3 linked regions of the Homo sapiens genome follow. The protein of the gene in region 1 interacts with the protein of each later gene in a pairwise test. Each region holds a gene or a part of one and is shown on either strand. Other genes may lie near its edges. The genes, in order: KASH5, GALNT2 and MALL.

Region 1 (3,661 bases):
TCACCCTGTCAGCCAGGATGGTCTCGATCTCCTGACCTTGTGATCTGCCCGCCTGGGCCTCCTGAAGTGCTGGGATTACAGGCATGAGCCACTGCGCCTGGCCTCTTGGCCTGTGCTTTAGCTTCTGGATTCCTGTTGCTCTCTCTCTTTGGCTTCCTAACATTCTGTCATGGCTTTCTTCCCCTTGTCCCTAGGCAGTATGTGTCTGGGGAGCCCAAAGTAGTCAGGAAAGGGGAAAGAACCCTGGAAGAGGAGCCCAGAGGTGGATGGGAGGGTGGGAAAAATGCAGAGCCAAATGTGCTCCCCACTTCCTCCTTTGCAGGAACTGAGGCTGGAGATTTCACGCCTGGAGGAGCAGCTGAGTCAGACCTATGAGGGGCCCGATGAGTGAGTGGAATTTCAAGGGGTAGGAGGAGGCAGGAGGGGAGCCTAAGGGCAGGGACACCCTGGCCTCCAGCCCCAAGGTGGGCAGGGAAGGGAGGCCAGCATGAGCTGACTGAGTGGCCACCAGGCACAGAGGCCATCTTCCTCCCTCCTTCCTGTGTGGCCAGGCTACCTGAAGGGGCCCAGCTGAGAAGAGTGGGCTGGACCGAGCTGCTACCCCCATCGCTGGGCTTGGAGATCGAGGCCATTCGACAGGTGGGCCTAACACCCCTGGAATAAGCTGCAGGCCACCAAGGCAGAATCTCCAAACATCTCCCTACTCTGATCCTCACACCAGCCTAGCCCTAACCCACATTGCTGCCAGAGGCTCCTATCGCAACCTTAGCTTTTCTCTAACTCTCTCTACCTCGGATCCTAACCCCAAACCCACTGCCAGACCCAGGCCTGTGCCAGACCCCAGTCTGATCCAGCTTTGACTCACCCCTATCTCGTCTCCCTCCATGACCATCTCACTCCTTAACTTCATCTCGAACCTAGACCTTGGTCCTGGCACCAAATCCTCCCCTGTTCCTGCTTCTGCCCACTCCCCAACCCCAGCCCCACACCAGCCCTTTTCTATCTCTCATCCTATTTTCAGCCGCACACCTAAACCTATTTCTATCTCTGACCTTGTTTTCTACCTTAATATGGCTCTCCCTGACCTCGGAAACAACTTCTGTCCCAGAAACAGGAAGTGGCAACTGCTGATCTCTCCAACCCTCTGTGTGGGGTGTGGCAGTGGGAGGAAGTCATCCATGAGACCAGTGAGGAAACTGAGTTTCCATCTGAAGCCCCAGCTGGGGGACAGGTGAGCACAGGAAAAGCTCTGAAGTCCAGGAGCTGGAAAGGGGCCAGGAGCTCCAGGTGCCGCCCTGGCCAGCCCATTCACTCACACTTTTGCTTGTTCCCCATTTGATGAGAAAATGTTAATTGAGGGCCCAGTGTGTGCTGGACACCCAGCCACAAGCCAGACCAGACACCACCCCTACCCCAGGGACTGACCTGCCAGCGTTGTAGACAAAGGTGAACCAAGCAAACACACAAGTTGCACTGTGGCTTTTATTGTTGGTTTGTTTTTTAGAAAACACTCTTGGGAATTACATTATTTAAAATCGTACTACTGTAGGAAGGGAATAAGTAAGTTGTTTATTCCAGCATTTTAAGGATATATTAAGCATTTATGTTTCAAATGTTAGCACCTTTAAGAAAAGCCAGCAAGCTCACTATGACATCTTTAACTCAGCAATAACCATTGGGGTTTTTTTTGTTTTTTGTTTTTAGAGACAGGATCTTGTCTTATTCTGTTGCCAAGGCTGGAGTGAACTTGACTCACTGCAGCCTCAATCTCCTGGATAAGCAATCCTCCCACCTCAGCCTCCCAAGTAGCTGGGATTACAGGAACACACCACCATGACTGGCTTTTTTTTTTTTTTTGAGATGGAGTCTCACTCTGTCACCCAGGCTGGAGTGCAGTGGCACGATCTCAGCTCACTGCAACCTCCACCTCCCAGGTTCAAGCAGTTCTCCCTGCCTCAGCCTCCCAAGCAGCTGGGATTACAGGAACCTGCTGCCACACCTGGCTAATTTTTGTATTTTTTTTAGTAGAGACGGGGTTTCGCCATGTTGGCCAGGCTGGTCTTGAACTCCTGATCTTAGGTGATCTGCCCGCCTCGGCCTCCGAAAGTGCTGGGATTACAGGCATGAGCCACCATGCCCAGCCTTTTTAAAATTTTTTTATAGAGTTGAGATCTCACTGTGTTGTCCAGACTGGTCTCAAACTCCTGGGCTCAAACTGTCCTCCTACCTCAGCCTCCCAAAGTGCTGGGATTACAAGCATGAGCCACTGCACCTGGCTTTTTTTTTTTTAATTAATTAATTTATTTTGAGACGGTCTCACTCGCTTCTCTGTTGCCCCGGCTGGGGTGCAGTGGCATTATCACAGCTCACTGCAGCCTCAATCTCCCTGGACTCAGGTGATCCTCCCATCTCAGCCTCCCAAGTAGCTGCAACCACAGGCATGTGCCACCATGTGTAGCTAAATTTTCTATTTTTTGTAGAAATGAGGTCTCCCTGTGTTGCCCAGTCTGGCTGAACTCCTGGGGTCAAGTGATCCGCCTACCTCAGTCTCCTAGAGTGCTGGGATTACAGGCATGAGCCACTGCTCTGGGCTCTCTCTCTATTTTTTTTTTTTCTTTTAAAGAAAATGTTGTAAACAGCTCTATAAACAAGCTGTATTGTCTTGAGAACTGCACCACTTCAAAGCTCTTTGCCATCCTTAAGGAGAGACTCATTTCTCTGATCACTTTTTCCCTGGTTTGAGAAAAGCTTTTGTTTCTCTTTGACACCAGAGCTTGTTTGGGTTCTCATTTAACTCTCCCAGTATCTCTGTAAGGCAGGCATCCTCATCTTGTTACTCATGGGAAACTGAGGCTCAGGGAGAAATCACATGCCAATGGTCACACAGCTTGTTGGGGACAGAGCCTCATCCCTCAGAAGTGTAGGTTAGATTGGGCTTCTGCTTTGAGCTGTCAGATGCCCCTGAGAGACAGGCTTGTCAAGGGGAAGACTGAGCCAGGCCTCAGAGTGCAACCTGCGATGGGCCCAGGGATACAGAGCTGAGTCCCTTGGGGCCGGGCCTCTCAGTGCTCAAGGCCTGATAGGAGAGACCCTGCAAATGGGTTGCCCCAGTGCAGAATGATCATTGTGCTAGAGGTGGGGGATGGGCCTGTGGGAGCCCAGAGAAGGGGTATCTGTGTCAGGTCAGAGATTGGGGAAGATATTGAAGGAAAACTGATACTTGAGTGGAAGGAAGGAAGGAAGGAAGGATGGAAGGAGGGAGGGAGGGAAGGAGGGAAGGAAGGAAGGAAGGAAGGAAGGAAGGAAGGAAGGAAGGAAGGAAGGAAGGAAAGAAGGAAGCCAGCCTTTGAGGCACTAGCACAGCCTGTGCAAGGCCTTGGCATAAAATCACGATATGCTTGAGGAGTAGAGGGTAACTAGGGGTGACTAGTGAGAGATGAGGCCAGGGCCAGATCATGAAAGGAAATCTCTGACAAGCTAACAGATTGTACTTTTCTTCATAAAGCCACAAGAAGGGTGGGGTCAGCTCCGGGCTTAAAAAGATCCCTCTGGAACCATGTGAGGGACCTACTGGAGGCAGGGAGGAGGCTGGAGCAATGGTGATGAAGCCTGAGCCAGGCCAGGGCCCTAGGGATGGAGGAAAAGGGACAGACAGACATAA
Region 2 (3,661 bases), on another chromosome or scaffold:
CTTCTTTAAACACTATTTGTTCCTTTCCTTACCTCTGTTTCCAAGAACCAAGAAAAAAACAGTGTCTTCATAGCACATAATAGTGCCTGAAGTTGCAGAATACATTTATTTGTGTGTCTTTCATGTTCCCCACTAGAAAGGGAGCCTGGCTCTGTGACAGCGCCGGTGTCATACAGGTGTGCAGCAGGTGGTCATGGGACAGACCGATAGAAAGACAGACAGACAGACGGAGGGGAGGGCCACTGCAGCGTGCTGGGGCTTAGAGAGGAAGGGGATGGAAGTGGATAGTGAGTCCCTGTGGGGTTTTAAACTGGAAAGGGCCTTGCTGCCCCTCGATATTAAGGGGTGTTCATCCCTTTGAGTGGGACAAATGGAGAGTGATGGTCAGAAGCCTCACCTTCCAGTCCCTGCTGTGGCCCTGCCTGGAACAGGCTCCGGCCTCCTCTGCCACCTGGGACCATGTCTCATTTAGTATCCAAAATGGTTGTCCTCTCACCCTGTCACAGCCTTTAACTTGTGTGTGTTTGTACATATATGTGTGTGTTTGTTTGTTAACATCATGGTGTGTTATTTAAACACTCTCTAGCTCAGTTTTCTCATCTATAAAATGAGAATAATAATAGCCCTCATGGAGCTGTTGTATAAAGGGCTTAAAATAATGCTTGGCACATAGCACCCCATTAAATTTAGCTGTAATGTATTCAAAGAAATTCATAGATCTATTCCTCCAGTTTTCAGAGGGCTTCATGAGCACCCATAGATCAATTAGCATTCACTTAGGAGGCTATACACGATATATTTTGCTTACATATGCAATGTGTTATTTACTACAGTTCACATTCATCAATGCTGTTTGCAGGCCATACCTGCATGAGGGCAGAGTCATTCCAAAATAGCATGGGTGGACCAGTTGCCAACTGTCTACCTGGTGTATAACCAAGCTTGTGCCACAGTTTTTACAGCTCACATTGAATTATAGAAAAATGAACAAGGCAGTCTAACTTGTATTTGGGGCTAAAATAGTTAATAGTTTTATTTTAGTTACTGAGGTCCTCAAAGCACTTCTGCACATCACTCAGCCAACTTACTGCTCAGTTGTGAGGTTCTCCCACATCTCTGATGTTATAAATTTGCCCTTAGGCAAAAAGTAATTGTTTCGTTCTCAGTTGGCTCAGGGGTTCTGAATCTAAGCTCCACCCCGTGACCCATTTCCTTTTTGAGCCCTCATCGATGCCCCTTCTTTCCTTTCACAGCCCGGTGCATAGCACGCCTCTGACTTCTGGTTTTGTGTTCCAGGAATGGGCCTTGACGAAGGAGAAGTCGGTGAAGCACATGGATTTGTGCCTTACTGTGGTGGACCGGGCACCGGGCTCTCTTATAAAGCTGCAGGGCTGCCGAGAAAATGACAGCAGACAGGTACGGCTTGCAGGCACCCGTGGGTGCCCGTGATTAACCCAGACCAGGGTAGCCACGGCCTGCGCCCTCTTGCTCTGTGCTGCCTCTCAAAGCATCCATCTCTGCGTGTACTTATGTGTTCTTTTGCATCACTGTGAATAATGTCTAGCTGCCCTATTAGACTTAAGCCACAAACCTAATGTTGCTTATTTCTGATTATATTCTCATTCTCTTCCCTATGCCGCTGAAAATTTAAAGAGAAATTATCTACTTTTGTTTATTCATCAAATACTTTTTTCTATTTCAATTTACAAAAATTCTAAATGATTAATGTTCACATGGATGGTACTCGATACATAATGCAAGTGTGTGTGTCTATGTGTGTATATATGTGAGCATATATATACACACATATATACACACCACATATATATACATGCTACATATATACATATATACATGCCACATATATACATATATACACGCCACATATATACACATATATACATGCCACATATATACGTATATATATACACACCACATATATATACATGTATACACACCACATATATATACATATATATACACACCACATATACATATATACACACCACATATACATATACCTGCCACATATATACATATATAAACACCACATATATATACATATGCATGCCACATATATGCATATGTAAACACCGCATATATACATATATACACACCACATGTATACGTATATATAGATGCCACATTTATACATATATAAACGCCACATATATATACACACCACATATGTATACATATATATACATGCCACATATACATCTATAAACACCACATGTATACACGCCACATATATACATATGTAAACACCACATATATACACACCACATATATATACACGCCACATATATACATATATACAAACACCACATATATATACATATACACACACACACCACAGATACATACATATATATACATGCCACATAGATATACATATATAAACGCCACATATATATACATATAAACACACCATATATATACATATAGATACATGCTACATTTATATAAACACCACATATATATACGCCACATAGATATACAAGCACAACATATATACATGCCACATGTATACATATGTAAACACCACATATATATACACACCACATATACACACCACATATATATATACAAACACCACATATATATACATATATACATACACCACAGATATATACATATATATACATGCCACATATATATACAAATATACATGCCACATATATACATGTATATACATGCCACATAGATATACATATATAAATGCCACAGATATATACATATATAAACACCACATATATACATAGACACCACAGATACATACATATATACATGCCACATATATATACGTATATATACATGCCACATATATATACGTATATATACATGCCACATATATATACGTATATATACATGCCACATATATATACGTATATACATGCCACATATATATACGTATATATACATGCCACATATATATACATATATAAACACATATATACATATATAGACACCACAGATATATACATATATATACACACCACATATATATACATATATACACACACACACATATACACACAGTTTCTTTAAACATTTCAGAATAGACTTTCTACCTGCCTTGTAAGCCGGTTTTCTCTGACGTATTCCCTTGTGGCAGCTTGTGGACACACCCTTTCTCAAGGCATGGGGTAACAGTTAGTGTCAGGAATAGAAATGCAAGCACAAAAGGTCCTCCCTGTATGCCCATACTTGGAGTGCCTGCCCCTGTTCTTACAGTCGGTCCTTAGAGATAGATGGGATGTAGGGAAACTGAGGCACAGAACCTACTGGAGCCAAGAGCCTAAGCCAGCTTCTAGTCTAACCCTGATTTCACAACAGAAAAGTCTCAGAAAGTCATTGCCTCCACCCTGGAGTCATCTGGGAAGACCAAGGCCAGGACCGAGTCCCCGGTTCTGACCCCAGTTGTCAGGGAGACGCCTGCAGAGGGCCCTCTTTCACCTGTCTGTCTCCAAACCCCTGCGCCAGCTCTGGGTGCTCCTCCTTCCCTGCTCTGCAGAGTCCCAGCCTGTCCTGGCAGTGGGAGCCCCTCTCTAGGGTTCTGCTCACAATCCGCATCTCTAAATGTCCATCTGTGTTGATGACTTGATACCAAAATGTGTAAGGGAGTGCCTGTTAAACAAGAGAAGGCTAGCACCGCTTG
Region 3 (3,661 bases), on another chromosome or scaffold:
CTTTACCGTGACTCAGCGGGGCCAGCCTTCCTTCCCCATTTTCCTCTTGGTTCCCTCCTAACTTCACCTGAACTTGTAACTAGAGACAGAAAAGAGACACCCTGCAAAGGGAAACATACTCCACACTAGCTAATGAAGCCCCTTCTTTTATGCTTTTATCTTCCAGATATTTGGGTTCTTGGTCTGGACCATGGTAGCCGCCACCCACATAGTATACCCCTTGCTGCAAGGATGGGTGATGTATGTCTCGCTCACCTCGTTTCTCATCTCCTTGATGTTCCTGTTGTCTTACTTGTTTGGATTTTACAAAAGATTTGAATCCTGGAGAGTTCTGGTAAGAACCAGCAGCATGGCTCTTCCTGGGTGGACGTTCTGGGTTGGGTGAGGACAATTGGCCTTTCTGGGCAGGGAGGGATCCTGGGCTAGGCTCCTATGGAACCAAGACTTTTTATCTTACCATTTTTACTACCACGCTAAAATGAAGACATTTATCTGCAAGCGTAAATAATTCCTGGTATTCCCCTTCACTGGCTTCCCTGTTAGGAGAATACACAATGACCTGTGATCAAGCATATTCTGATGTGTTTCCCCTAAATTTTCTTCCTGGTAAAATCCTTGGAGCAACACTGAAGAAAAAGCTAGTAGGAAAAAAATCACTCCATTCTCAAGGCCCTAACACAATCCCTGCGACAGGGTATTTCTTCCATATCCCACATGAATTATATGCAAAGTATATATACATATATACGTATATACATATGTATATATGTATATATATGTATATATATACTTTAATTGTACTCTACAAATAATTTTGGATGTAGATGCTTTCATTTAATATTACATCACTAATTTTTATTTATCACGTCATCTCAAAAAACCATTTAAAACTGTTCCACACTGAACAATTGAAGACATATTTAAAAGTACAGAATATTGTATTATAGGCCCTCATGTAGCCATAACCCAGATTCCAGCATTATCAAGACCTTACCACATTTGTTTCATCTAGCCTTTGTCCCCACTAAGGAATTTTAAAGCAAACACCAAACATCATGCCATTCTATTCCACACACTTCAGTATGTTTCCAAAAAAACTCCGCAAACTTTCTCACATTATCACATGTATACGAAGTAAACAATTCCTCAGCATACCTAAGACAGTATACAGTGGTCCCCCATCTCCGGAGGATAAGTCCCAAGACCCCTAGGGGATGCCTGAATCCTCAGAGAGTACTGAACTCCGAATTTGCTATGCATGCACTTCTTTTTTCTTCTTCACAATTTCACAGATAGACAATTCATTCTTACTGTAGATCTTAACAACCTCAGCATATTTTTTTTCTTTCCTTATTAAGCTGAAAACTTATACTTTTTAACTTAAAGAAAGCACCCTATGACTTCTCTTTGGCATATCCAAATTGCCAGCATCACTACTCTTGCAATTTGGGGCCATTATGAAGTAAAATAAGGATTCTTTGAATGCAAGCACTGCAGTGCCACAACAGTTGATCTGATAGCCCAGATGAGTACAAAGCGACTAACATGGGTGGCACAGACAGTGTAGACATGCTAGACAAATGTCTGATTCACATCCCAGGTGGAACAGGGCGGGACAGTGCAAGATTTCATCATTGTACTCAGAAAGGCACACATTTAATTGTTAATTTCTGGAATTTTTCATTTAATATTTCAGACCAAGATTGACTTTGCGTAACTGAAATATACTGATCTTTATTAGTCTGCCATTGCTTACGACATAGATATTACATTAAAAACACTGTGTATTAGTCTATTCTCACATTGCTATAAACAACCAGAGACTGGGTAAATTATAAAGAAAAGAGGTTGAATTGACTAGTTCCTCATGGTTAGGGAGGCCTCAGGAAACTTACAATCATGGTGGAAGGTGAAGGCTAAGCAAGGCATGCCTTGCATGGCAGCAGGAGAGATGGGGGAGGGGGAAGTGCCATACTTTTAAACCATCAGATCCCATGAGAACTCATTCACTATCATGAGAACAGCATAGGGGAAACTGCCCCCATGATCCAATCACCTCCCACCAGGTCCCTCCCTTGATACATGTGGATTACAATAGGAGATGAGATTTGGGTGGGGACAAAGAGCCAAACCATATCATTATACCACTGGCCCCTCCCAAATCTCATCCTTCTCACATTTAAAAATACAATCATGCCTTCTCAACAGTCCCCCAAAGTTTCAACTTATTCCAGCATTAACCCAAAAGTTTAAGTCCAAAGTCTCATCTAAGACAAGAGAAGTCTCTTCTGCCTATGAGCCTGTAAAATCAAAAAGCAAGTTAGTTACTTCCAAGACACAATAAGGGTACAGGCATTGGGTAAATGCTCCCATTCCAAATGGGAGAAATTGGTCAAAACAAAGGGGCTACAGGCCCCATGCAAGTCCTAAACCCAGCTGGGCAGCCATTAAATGTCGACATTCCAAAATCTCCTTTGACTTCATGTCTCAGATTCAAGTCACCCTGTTACAAAGGGTGGGCACCCAAGACCTTGGGCAGCTCCACCTCTGTGGCTCTTCACAGTACAGCCCCTGCAGCTGCTTTCACAAACTGGCATTGAGTGTCTGTGCTTTTTCAAGGTGACCAGTGCAAACTGTCAGTGAACCTACCATTCTGGGGTCTACAGGACAGCTCTTCTCACAGCTGTACTAGCCAGTGTCACAGTGGGGACTCTCTGTGGGGGGTCTGACCCCACATGTCCCTTCTGCACTGCCCTAGTAGAGGTTCTTCATAAGGGCTCCACCCCTGCAGCAGACTCTGCCTGTACATCCAGTCATTTCCATACATCCTCTGAAATCATGGCAGAGGTTCCTAAACCTCAATTCTTGCCTTCTGCATGCCTGTAGGTCCAACACCATGTGTAAGCTGCCAAGGCTTGAGGCTTACACACTCTGAAGCAATGGCCCAAGCTGTACCTTGGCCCCCAGCTGCTGGAGCTGGGGCAGCCGGGTTGCAGAGTGCTGTGTTCCAGGACTGTGCAGAGCAACAGGGCCCTGAGCCTGGCCCACAAAACCATTTTTCCCTCCTAGGTCTCTGAGCCTGTGATGGGAGGGGCTACTGTGAAGATCTCTGAAATGCCCTGGAGATATCGTCCCCTTTGTCTTGGGGACCCTCATTACTCATGAAAATTTCTGCAGCTGACAGCTTGAATTTCTCCCCAGAAAATATGTTTTTCTTTTCTAACACATGATCAGGCTGCAAATTTTCCAAACTTTTATGTTCTGCTTCCCTTTTAAACATAAGTTCCAATTTTGGACCATCTCTTTGTGAATGCATATGATTGTACACTTTCAGGAAAAGTCAGGTCACATCTTGAATGCTTCAATGCTTAGAAATTTCTTCTGCCAGATACCCCAAATCATCTCTTTTAAGTTCAGAGTGCCACAGATCTCTAGGACAGGGGTAAAATGCCACCAGTCTCTTTGCTAAAGCATAGCAAGAGTGACCTTTATTCCAGTTCCCAATAAGTTCCTCATCTCCATCTGAGACCACCTCAGCCTGGATTTCATTGTCCATATCACCATCAGCATTTTGGTCAGAATCATTCAACAAGTCTCTAGAAAGTTCCAAACTTTCCTACATCTTCCTGTCTTCTTCTGGGTACCCCAAACTGTTCCAACC

Evidence for each region.
Region 2: the proteins of KASH5 (region 1) and GALNT2 interact in binary tests that used the Homo sapiens proteins (3 or more experiments, as listed by UniProt).
Region 3: the proteins of KASH5 (region 1) and MALL interact in binary tests that used the Homo sapiens proteins (3 or more experiments, as listed by UniProt).

What each region holds. Positions count from the first base shown.
Region 1 is NC_000019.10:49,408,645-49,412,305, forward strand, and holds part of KASH5 (protein KASH5), read left to right. Parts: intron 1-322; coding exon 323-387; intron 388-551; coding exon 552-639; intron 640-1,108; coding exon 1,109-1,231; intron 1,232-3,661. UniProt on the Homo sapiens protein: As a component of the LINC (LInker of Nucleoskeleton and Cytoskeleton) complex, involved in the connection between the nuclear lamina and the cytoskeleton.
Region 2 is NC_000001.11:230,273,149-230,276,809, forward strand, and holds part of GALNT2 (polypeptide N-acetylgalactosaminyltransferase 2 precursor), read left to right. Parts: intron 1-1,296; coding exon 1,297-1,416; intron 1,417-3,661. UniProt on the Homo sapiens protein: Catalyzes the initial reaction in O-linked oligosaccharide biosynthesis, the transfer of an N-acetyl-D-galactosamine residue to a serine or threonine residue on the protein receptor.
Region 3 is NC_000002.12:110,088,276-110,091,936, reverse strand, and holds part of MALL (MAL-like protein), read left to right. Parts: intron 1-166; coding exon 167-334; intron 335-3,661.